Homo sapiens: one gene and its partners. The protein of the gene in region 3 purifies or fractionates together with the protein of the main gene of each other region. This does not show direct contact. Each region holds a gene or a part of one and is shown on either strand. Other genes may lie near its edges.

What was found.
Region 1: the proteins of NCBP2 (region 3) and PHAX purify together in Homo sapiens (affinity purification with mass spectrometry; 5 studies listed by BioGRID and IntAct, with this or other methods). This does not show direct contact.
Region 2: the proteins of NCBP2 (region 3) and KPNA1 purify together in Homo sapiens (affinity purification with mass spectrometry; 3 studies listed by BioGRID and IntAct, with this or other methods). This does not show direct contact.

What each region holds. Positions count from the first base shown.
Region 1 is NC_000005.10:126,617,873-126,621,623, forward strand, and holds part of PHAX (phosphorylated adapter RNA export protein), read left to right. Parts: intron 1-3,751. UniProt on the Homo sapiens protein: A phosphoprotein adapter involved in the XPO1-mediated U snRNA export from the nucleus.
Region 2 is NC_000003.12:122,513,051-122,516,801, reverse strand, and holds the start of KPNA1 (importin subunit alpha-5), read left to right. Parts: upstream 1-1,862; 5' UTR 1,863-2,045; intron 2,046-3,751. UniProt on the Homo sapiens protein: Functions in nuclear protein import as an adapter protein for nuclear receptor KPNB1. Binds specifically and directly to substrates containing either a simple or bipartite NLS motif.
Region 3 is NC_000003.12:196,935,807-196,939,557, forward strand, and holds part of NCBP2 (nuclear cap-binding protein subunit 2), read right to left. Parts: intron 3,627-3,751; coding exon 3,445-3,626; intron 1,843-3,444; coding exon 1,704-1,842; intron 1,277-1,703; coding exon 1,205-1,276; 3' UTR 1-1,204. UniProt on the Homo sapiens protein: Component of the cap-binding complex (CBC), which binds co-transcriptionally to the 5' cap of pre-mRNAs and is involved in various processes such as pre-mRNA splicing, translation regulation, nonsense-mediated mRNA decay, RNA-mediated gene silencing (RNAi) by microRNAs (miRNAs) and mRNA export.

The DNA of each region.
Region 1 (3,751 bases), on a different chromosome or scaffold from region 3:
CAAAGTGCTGCAATTACAGGCATGAACCATTCTTTCTTTACCTATACACTTTTTATTTGTTTCTCTATTTCTTTCTTTCTTTTTTCCCCTTGAGACAGGGTCTAAGGACCTGGCTCTATTGCCCAGGCTGGAGTGCAGTGGCGCAATTTCTGTTCACTGCAGCCTCTGCCTCCTGGGCTCAAGTAGTCCTCCCACCTCAGCCTCCAGAGTAACTGGGAGTACAGGCATATGCCATTACACCCAGCTAATTTTTGTATTTTTTGTAGAGATGTTGCCCAGGCTGGTCTGGAACTCTGGGCTCTAGTGATCCACCCACCTCAGCCTCCCAGAGTGTTGGGATTATAGGCATGAGCCACCACGCCTGGCCTATACAGTCTTTTCCTGTTCCATGTGGAAATAAATAACAAGCATCAGATGCTTAGTTCTAATTATTTGAACAAGCGTAAGGGCAGGCAATGAGTCTGGAGTGAGTGTACAGTTAACACTTCAGCTTGGTGCCATCCCCCACCAAAAAAAAAATACAAAAAAAAAGTATCTCCCAGTAATGACAATACCCTACATAACCACAAGACCCATTATCACTCCTAAGAGAAATAAAAACAATTTCATAGTATTCAATATCTAGACCTTATTCCAATTTCCTAATTTGTCCCAAGAATATATTTTATATACTTTCCCCCTAAGCAGAATACAGTCTAGGTTTCCATATTCCATTTGTTGTATCTCCTCCTGTATTATATATTTTTAATTAAATTTTTTTTTTTAATTTTTGGAAACAAAGTCTTTTTTTAAAAACTGTTTTTTTTTTTTTTGAGATGGAGTCTTGCTCTGTCGCCAGGCTGGAGTGCAGTGTCATGATCTCGGCAACCTCTGCCTCCCGGGTTCAAGCAAGTCCCCTGCCTCAGCCTCCTGAGTAGCTGGGATTACAGGCTTGCGCCACCACGCCCAGCTAATTTTTTGTATTTTAGTAGAGATGGGGTTTCACCATGTTAACCAGGATGGTCTCGATCTCCTGACCTCGTGATCTGCCTGCCTTGGCCTCCCAAAGTGCTGGGATTCAGGCATGAGCCACCACGCCCGGCCGGAGACAAAGTCTTACTCTGTTGCCCCAGCTGGAGTGCATCATCACAGCTCACTGCATTCTTGACCTCCCTGGTCTTAGATGACCCTCAGCCTCCCAAGTAGCTGGGACAACAGACATGCACCACTATGGCCAGCTAATTTTTGTATTTTTTGTAGAGACGGAGTTTCTCCATGTTGGCCAGGCTGGTCTCCAACTCCTGGGCTCAAGCAGTCCTCCCACCTTGGCCTCCGAAAGTGCTGGAATTACAGGTGTTAGCCACCTTGCCTGGCCCTCCTTTATTCTTTTTAACCCCACATTTTCCTTCATGATTTAGACCTTTTGAAGAGTTAAAGATGGTTAGGTCAGGCGTGGTGGCTCCTGTCTGTAATTCCAGCATTTTGGGAGGCCGAGGTGGGCAGATCAGTTGAGTTCAGGAGTTCAAGAGCAGCCTGGCCAGCATGGTGAAACCCCGACCCTACTCAATACAAAAATTAACCAGGCATGGTGGCGGGCGCCTGTAATCCCTGCTACTCGGGAGGCTGACGTAGGAGAATCGCTTGAACCTGGGAGGTGGACGTCGCAGTAAGCCGAGATCACACCACTGTACTCCAGCCTGGGTGACAGAACAAGACTCTGTCTTTAAAAAAAAAAAAAAAAAGTTACAGGTGGTTATCTTACAGAATATTAGGTTACCTTATTATATTTTGGTGATTGTCTCCTTGTGGCTTTCATTCATTCTTCTGTCTCCAGTATTATAAACTAGAAGGTGTAGACTCTTTAGTATTTTAAATCATGTTTGTGTTACTGGGAATATCTTTTACGGACATTCTTCTACAGTATGGATTTTTCAAAACTTAAAATTTGTTTTCTTTTAATTTGTTAATCCGAGAACATGATTTGCACTTAGCATTTATTCATAGACTAAAGATTGAGAACTAAACTCTTGCATAGGAAAGAGGTGGTGCACATCTATCACAGCTGTTGTATTTGAGTAGCCGCACATTTTCCTTATGATAACAATGGTGATAAAGGTAATAGGAATGTGTCTTTTAGCCATACTGACTGTAATGCTAATGATGACAGATAAAGCAACTTACCTTGAGCTGGTCCAGGTAATTGCATTTTGCATCTGCTCAGTGTTCTTTTTCCTTAAGTTTTCTGGCTGTTCTCTTAACAGTCATTTTAATAGAGTCTGCTATATTGACATTCCTATAGGAAATGTTACTGTAAATCTAAAATCTCTAGTAACTACTTTTTTCATTTCATTGTAACAACTGTTTCAGTAACATGATTTGTAACAATGTAAGTTTCCTTAGGAACACAACTGTTGAGTGGTAGCAAAGATTATACTCTAATGTTCTCTCCTCTCACCCAAAGTAATTCTTGACAAAAAGTATGTACTTAAAAGATACCTTCTAAGTAACTAAACCTTGGACAAATAATATTCTCAGGCAGGAGAAAAGAAATACTGTAACATTTATTGATTTCCTCCCACTGGACCAAAGATTAATATTATATAACTTAATCTTCACCACATTGTATCACCGTGAATGTTACAAATGGAGAATAATCAAAATTATATGCCTGAGATCACACAGACCACTCTGACTCCAAAACCATGTTGGAGTTATTTTCACTGTATTATGTCTTTGTAATTCAGTTATTCCAGCTCATTTAGGGAAAGGATTTTAATACTAGAAAGTTTTTATGTCAAACTACCAGAAACTTTGCATTATAATAACAAAAAATAGAAACACTTGGAATATCTAATAATAGGGAAATGTTGACTTACAAGGACATTCTTTTGTTTGTTTGTTTTTTTGAGACAGAGTCTCACTCTGTCCCCTAGGCTGAGTGCAGTGGACGATCTCGGCTCACTGCATCCTCCGCCTCCCAGCTTCAAGCAGTTCTCTCACCTCAGCCTCTCGAGTAGCTGGGATTACAGGCATACCACCACACCCGGCTAATTTTTGTATTTTTAGTAGAGACAGGGTTTCACCATGTTGTCTGGGCTTGTCCCAAACTCCTGACTTCAGGTGATCCACCCTCCTCGGCCTCCCAAAGTGCTGGAATTACAGGAGTGAGCCACTGCGCCTGGCCAAAAAATTCTTTTTAAAAAGAGACGGTTTCACTCTGTCACCCAGGTCTCACATTATGTTGCTCAGACTGGTCTTGAACTCTGGGGCTCAAATGATGTTCATGCCTCGGCCTCTCAAAGTGCTGGGATTACAGGTGTGAGCCACTGTACCTGGCAGTTTTGTTTTGTTTTGAAGAGGTAGGTCTCCTGCTATCACTCAGGCAGGAGTCCAATGGCACTATCGTAGCTCACTGTAGCCTCAAACTCCAGGGCTCAAGTGACCCTCTTGCCTCAGCCTCCTTAGTAGCTGGGACTGTAGGGCACATGCCATCACTCTCAGCTTATTTTTAAAATATTTTGTAGAGACAGGGTCTTATATTGCCCAGTCTAGTCTCAAACTCCTGGCCTTAAGCAATCCTCCTGCCTGGGCCTCCCAAAGTCCTGGGATTACAGGTGTGAGCCACCATGCCTGACCAATAAAATTTTATTATAGATCATTTATTTCAGATGCCACCTAAATGATGATGTTATAATTATTCTTTTAATTGCTATATTGCTAACAGTCACCATATGTAGAACTTAGAAGCCAGAACTTGACTAAGTTTGTTTTC
Region 2 (3,751 bases), about 74 Mb from region 3:
CCCTATACACAGTAGAGATGTACAAGAATGTTCACAGCAGCATTGTTTGTGACAGTAAAAAATACTGTTCTATACTTTCAAATTTCTCAAACTATAAAATGATATTGTCAGAGAGACAGTAGCTTATAAAACACCATGTATGGTATGATAACATTTTTGTAAAAGTAACATACATAGGAATTCAACTTCCAGCAATGGCCTACTGTTGTTTTCAATCAACCTTTCCACTACAGAGAACAACTGAACAAAATATAAAAACGTTAATGTACTGAAGAGCTACCAAGGAAGTGAGAATTTGTGAGTGCAAGGTCTGGAAGAAAAAGGAAGCCACCAGAGGTTAGCCTGATATTTGCCATCATTTTTCCAAAGCTAAGGTGATTGCTGACTCTGAAAGCAGTGGCTGAAACAGGGAGAAGAGCTTATGGCTGTCTCATGGGGCTTAGAAGGCCCACCAAAGAGAAGAGGCCCTAGTAAATACCCCAGACTTTTGGATGGGACCATCAAGGACTAGCTAGGAATAAGGGTGAACCGGAAATAAATTAGCTTTCCCAAAGACTGAAGACCGGCTCTGAATAATCAGTCTTAGTTCCTTATTGGAATAAGGTGATCTGTCTTCAGTCTAGCTGTGGTCAGGCAAACTTGCCCTTAAGTCTCTCCTGTTGAACACACCTTCCCTTTCCCCAGCCCCCTTGCTCAAACTCAACTCTGATCTTAGTAAACACAACATCAGCGGGAGAATGCTGATGCAGCAGAGAGAAGTCCAGGACAAATGAACATTGCATAACCTAGGATTCAGGTAGAGTGGTCCTCTCTCCTCTCCTCTTCCCTGGGACATTTATAAATGTATTAATCTACCTCATCTCTTTCACCTTGCTTCTTGGCATGTGTTTTAAATCTGTCTACTATTCCGTGATCCCTGCTAGGCTGGCTTCAGTTTTTCTTCTTTTGAAGCCACTACTCCATTTGCTCCCCCAAAGAATTCCATGAAATTTAACATTAGCAATCATTTGCTCCAAGTTTTCGTTTGAGAGCAGTTGAGAGTAAAACGAGTATGTGTTTCATGTAGTTTCATTATTATTATTATTATTATTGTTATTATTATTTTTGAGGCAGGGTCTCACTCCGGTTGCCCAGGCTGGAGTGTAGTGGCGCGATCTCGGCTCACTGCAGTCTCACCGTCAACCCCGGGCTCAGGTGATTCTCCCACCTCAGCCTCCCGAGTAGCTGGGACTTCAGGCGCCCGTCACCACCCCCTGCTAATTTTTGTGTTTTTAGTAGAGACGGGGTTTCGCCATGTTGCCCAGGCTAGTCTCAAAACTCCTAGCCTCAAGTGATCCACCCACCTCGGCCTCCCAAGGTGCTGGGATTACAGGTGTGAGCCACCGCGCCCGGCCCTTAATTATTTTTGATACTACGCATACGTTATCAAGCAAAGGGGATGGGAGATAACTAAAAAAGGAATGTCCAGAAGCTTCCTGCATTCATGCTGCATGTGAGCCCTTTAGACACGAGGCGCTGACCTACTAATTTTGTAATACTCCCTCAGCCTTCAATCATTCCATCATTCATTCCATCAACGCGTATTAGGTACTTAGAAGCTATACAGAGGTGAGCATCGATCCGCCCTGGAAGAGCTTAGCAAAGACAGGTTTGTACATATAACTTTCTCCAACCTTTGCCATGGTCTGCAAACCTCCTTCTTAGCGAGACCCCCTCCCCGACCCCCGACTCTTCACAGGCTGGGCGCTAACCATTAGGAATGTCCGGCGAGAGAGCGTTACAAGACTACGTCTCCCGGCAGCCTCTGCGACAAGCGCCGGAGGGGCGCGCGTAGGCGCTCGGGCCGGCCCCCGCACGCAGGCGCACTGCGAACGCCGGCTGAGCTGAGTCTCGCTGCTCGGTGCGAGGCGGCGGAGAGCGAGGCCTGGTGAGCACCGCCGAGGCGCGGGCCAGCTCTTCGAGGTTGTGCGCGGGAGTGGCACGGCGGGCGGGCGAGCGAGGGGCTAACTTCAGCGGTGGCACCGGGATCGGTTGCCTTGAGCCTGGTGAGTGCTGGGGCCTTGCGGCCCCGGCCCCTCCCCCTCCCGCCGGCAGATCCGGGCAGTCCCGGAGGGACTCAGGAGAGGCCCTGGGGCGAGGGCGGGTGCCGGCAGGGCCTAGAGCCGGGGTTCCTGGGCCGGACGCTCGCGCCGCGTCCGTGCGTCACGGGCCCGGCTGTCCTAACGGCCACAAGGCCGGCGGAGGAGAGGGTGGGGGTGGGGAGCCCTGGTGTGATCGCCATCGGGAACGCCGGTCGAGGCTAGGCGGGGCGGGGCGGCGTGGCGCGGCGGCGGGGCTGTAAGCGGCGCCGGGGACTGCGGGGCGCCGAGGCAGCGGGCGGAGAGGAGGCGAGCGCGGAGCCTGCGCCGCGGCCGGGCGGCGGGCGGGAGGCGGGGGTGGGCCGCGCAGAGCGCTGTGACAGAGGCAGGAAGGAGCAGGGGTGGCGTGTAAAAATTCTAACCCTGGCAAAAAGGGACCGTCTTGGGAATTCACAAGTTACAGACCGGGTCGGAGCCGGCGGCCCGGAGGGAGGTGGGGGAAGCGGGGGGTGGAGACGGCCGGCTGCAGTTTACCGATGTCATAACAACATGGGCCTGGAGCGGCTGATCGGGGGTGTGGTAATTATAGCAATGACAGAACTTGGTCTGCACGCCGCGTGTGCGATGCGAGGGAAGCAGCGAGGTATCGGATTAAGCTCAAAACGGGAGGAGGAAACAAGGATGACTGGAGTCAAGGAAGTCGTCATGAAGTAATGTTTTAGGATTGGGTCGTGTTCCACTTTTAAATGAAAGCGTTCAAAATATTTGATTTTTAAGGTTTCAACTCAGAACAAACGATTGCCGAGTTTTTGTTTGTATTTTAAAGAGATGGGGTCTCGCTATATTGCCCAGGCTGTACTCCAACTCCTGAGCTCAAACTGTCCTCTTGCCTCAGCTTCCCAAGTAGCTGGGACTAGTCTTGGGCAACCACACCCAGCTCTGCAGAGTATTTTTTTTTCTGAAACGTACTGTCAAGTAATATTAACTTGAATTTCACCCTTTTTTCTTAAATAAACGGTTGCTTAAAAATCTCTATTAGTAGATGAAGTGATTTCCCCCCTCCTGTTTTGTTTTTTTTTTTCTTAAGAGATGGAGTCTTGCTTTGTTTCCCGGGCTGATCTGGAACTCCTGGCCTCAAGGCATCCTCCCTACTAGCTGGAACTACAGGCGGATGCCACCAGCAAGGCTCATTCTCGACATTGTTTTTGTCTTAACTAGCTTTTGCATTTGTAATATTTTGAAAGCAGTACACAAGTTATTTTTCCCTCCTTTTTAAAGATCAAAGAGATGAAAATTTAATTTTTCAAAGGAAAGTAAGAATGAGTTCTGTTGTATTTTTACTGAAATATTCTTGGAAGACACTGTTTTATGGATAGATGAGACGTAAGAGAAAGTAAAGGAATTAACATTTATTGAGTTCTTTTTTCAGGTATTGTGTTAAATGCTTTACATATATTAAAAACATTTGAATCTGAAGTATCTGTTAATTTTTCTATTTTACAGATGAAAGCATTGACAATCAAATGTTAAGTAACTTACCTAAGGTCTTCCAGTTCTTGTTGAGAACAACCTTAGAACCCAAAGTTACTGCCATTTAAATTATTTCTCTCCTTTCATACTTTTTCGTTGTTTTCTTTATTTAATCCGTTCAATCAGCGAATACTTACAGAGTG
Region 3 (3,751 bases):
TATTAGAGAGAAATCACCTCTTGCCTTACAAATACCAAATAAATTCCCTAGACTCCCCTCCCTGTAGAGACCATCAGCTCACTGTGAAGGCTTGAGCCTCAGTAGGTAAAATTTGAGGAAAAAAATGAGAAATGGCTAAAAGAGGCATCTGCTGCAGGAACCTTCTGTGACTGTCAAACATTCCCTCTTCAAGCTCCCTTTTAAAACCCAGTCCATTCCCAACATCACTGAAAATGAAAAGAATAAACTTGCTGGTCCTCATGTCAAGGCAGTGTTTTCATTGTCTCTTGATATTTTATCCCATTTCCTATTGACAACATCTCCCCTACCCCTGAAATTATTTAGAGGTTCCCTCTATGACAAACCCTTGCTTTTTTTTAGCTTTAGGTATAACACTGACATCTTTTGAAAAACGTGTTAGTAAATACTCAAGTTCTGGCCTCATTTCCTGATGTATGAAGCATGGAAGCAGTGCTGTCCTGTGGAGATTGCTTTTGCACCAACTACACAGGAAGGTCCTTGACCTCTAAGCATGCCTTTAGAGGTTAGAATTCACAGAAAACAAATTCAATTGTCAAACACCTGTTCCTAATTTTGTGCAAAGCAATACAACATAGCACAACTCCATTTGTTGTTTTTCGTTGTGCTTTGTAGAGACGGGGTCTTGCTATGTTGCCCAGTCTAGTCTCAAACTCCTGGCCTCAAGCTATCCTTCCTCCTCAGCCTCCCAAAGTGTTGGGATTACACGTGTGAGCCACCATGCCTGGCCCCACCTCCATTTATTAGGCTATCTCATGCAAACTTAAAATTAAAAAAATAATCCCAGGCCCCAATGTAGATCATGAACCTACTTAAGACTCATTATGGTAAAAACAAATTCTTACATTTTTCTGTCTTTCTAAAAGTGTAGTGGTTATGGCTAAAGACTAATCAACATTACAGATCCAATCTGTTGTCAAAGAACACAATTTCTGACCTGGTAACAAAATTGTTCTGATAATCTGACACATGGCCAAGATTCTCAGACAAGAATTAAAGGCATTCTTTTGGATTCTGTCCTTTAATAACTTTCAGAGGCTTCCAGCTCAGTAAAGACACTGATCAAATCTTGGTAAAAATGGGCTCGTGTGCAGACTTTAGGTGATGTTCTTCAGCAAATTCAACAGGCCAAAGGAGTGTTTGTCACTGACAGAGCTCTCACCACTCACTGGTTCTGTGCCAGTTTTCCATAGCCTCCTCTCCCAGCATCGTAGTCCTGCCGATACTCATCCCGAACCTTTAATGGAAAGAATCCAGAGTTACAGTATGGAAAAGAATGGTGTAACAAATATGCCTCCCACAAACATGTTAGACAAACAGTGAAACCTGTTCAGATGCCACAATGTGAACATTTCAAGCAGGACATATGCACTTCAGCTCACTTCAGTGCGTTTTGCTTTCATTTTAGATGTTCCTGCAGGTGGAAGATACCTAGCCCTAGCAGAAGTTCAAGAATGGTTGCTTGTTAGAAACGTACAGAACATACCATTTCACGGTTTAAAAAAAAAATTCACCCAAACCGTTGGGTGGTTTTCAGATCCACTTCAAGCCAAGGTTATAGACACAAAGTTATTTACAAAAGAGTAAATACAAATTGCCAAAACACCTGTCATTGTGACTGGAATCCCAGGCAATGGCTGAGCCCAGAGACCCTTCTTGCATACCTGGCCCCCAGATCGCCCACGGCCGTATTGCCTGCCCTCCTTAAAGCCTGCGTCCCAGTCTGTGCGAATGATTCGGTCATCCAGACGCGTCCCATTTATGTACCGCATGGCGTTTTCCGCATCTGCGCGTGAGTAATATCTTAAGTATTAAGGAACACTAGCATTTTTCCAAACATTTCTGGAAATAGGGGAACAACATGTAAATGAAGCTGAGTTGTTAAAAAGTACAAGAGCTAATCCAACCAGATGGAGTTCAAAGACAGTAATTCAGCTTGCCCAGGCCTGTTTGCGATTGGTTTGGAAGCACATAGAGTCAAATATGACACGTATCCATGGCTACACTGATCATATTTCTTGGACATTCCTGTTGATAATTTTTGGTCCCATCATCTCTGTATTTTGGTTTGCAAGTTTAGATCACTGTACACTTCTTATCCAAGAAACCAGTGCTGTATATTCAAGTTAGGTTCTGTACATTCCAAGGCACCCTAATCAAGAGAAGGTCACCGTGCACGTGGAATTGTGCTGCACTTCACTAAAGGAAAGACTCAAGCTGTCACCAAGGTAGCAGTTCCCAAACCTACTTCATCAGAGACCTCCCTTTAATTAAAGGGGAAGACATTTAATCTCAGACAAATAAAAATAAGACAACAGTGTTCTGAATAAACCATCTGGAGAAACTAGTATCTTTGATGTTAGCAAGCCAAAATAAAATCTCTTTTCATTCTAGCATTTGGGAAACCTGTGTATCCCCGAGGCAAGCCTGCAATCTGGGAGAGAAGCCCTGCCTGGGTCCAGTGAGTCAGCATTCTTTTCCTTAATTATGAGCAGAAATCCAGGGATCACCAGACACTTAAGGAAAAATTTCAACCGAAACAAACATAATTCAGGGCACAGGAAAAAATTCAAAAGATATATTAAATTGGGCCTGCAAAATTTCTCAGAATATTAAATTGAATGACCAAAACATACAGTAAAAAGAACATAGGATAAATCCAAGAGGTCCAATACTTAAAAGAGTCTGAGTAAGGGAATTAAATGATCAAAGTAAATAGTTTTGGTTTGTACCTATACAGTCAGGTTATATACATCTATATAATGAAATACTATACAGCTATTTACTTAAAAGTTTTTTTCTTTAAAGATGGGGTCTTAACCCGTCACCCCCGCTGGAACACAGTCACAACTCAGTGCAGCCTTGAAATCTTGGGCTCAACTGATCCTCCTGCCTCAGCTTCCTGAGCAGCTGGCACTACAAACACCAGCCACCATGCCCAGCTGTACAGCTATTTTAAAAAAAGACCTACATATGCTGAAATGGAACAATAAAAAATAAAAAAATGATTTTAAAAACAGCACATGAAATACACTACCGCACACCCACAGGGTTACTTCTTGAAAGACGCCCAAGAAACTGGTAACTGACTGCCTCTGGCAAAGGGCATTAGGGGTTTAGAACAGTACGAGATTTTTATATTTTCACTACATTCTTTGGAATTTTTTTTTTTTTACGTGAAGGGCAAACATTCTTGAAAAACTTTTTGTTAAAGAACCATAAAGCATGGATTTCAGAAGAGAATATAAATAGTATCAGCTTTACAGTATAAGGGCAGAGACACACTGGGTGGAAAGTAGGAGGGAGATGAAGGAAAACGTAGGGACGAGTGCAGGGACGCTTATGAGCTACCACTCTCAGCTCTACCCTGGTTCAGCAGCTACATTAGATCCATGGGAAGGATACTCCACAAAACAGAATCCACATGCTGTTTTCTTCATTTTATCCAGACCCATAATGATTTTCTTTATGTCACCACTTTTGCTGAAGAGTTCATAGATTTGTTCTTCAGTTGTGTAAAAAGAAAGATTTCCAACATATAACGTACAGCTTTTCTTCAGTAATTTTTCTTGTTCTTCATTGTCACCCTAGAATTTCAAATAGAGACAAAAGTTAAGCAACTTCAGAGCCTTGCTTAAATAGTATTTCTAAGTACGGTAGAGACATTCATTAATTCTGGTTTGGAAATCAACTTCTCTCATCCCAGCCTACC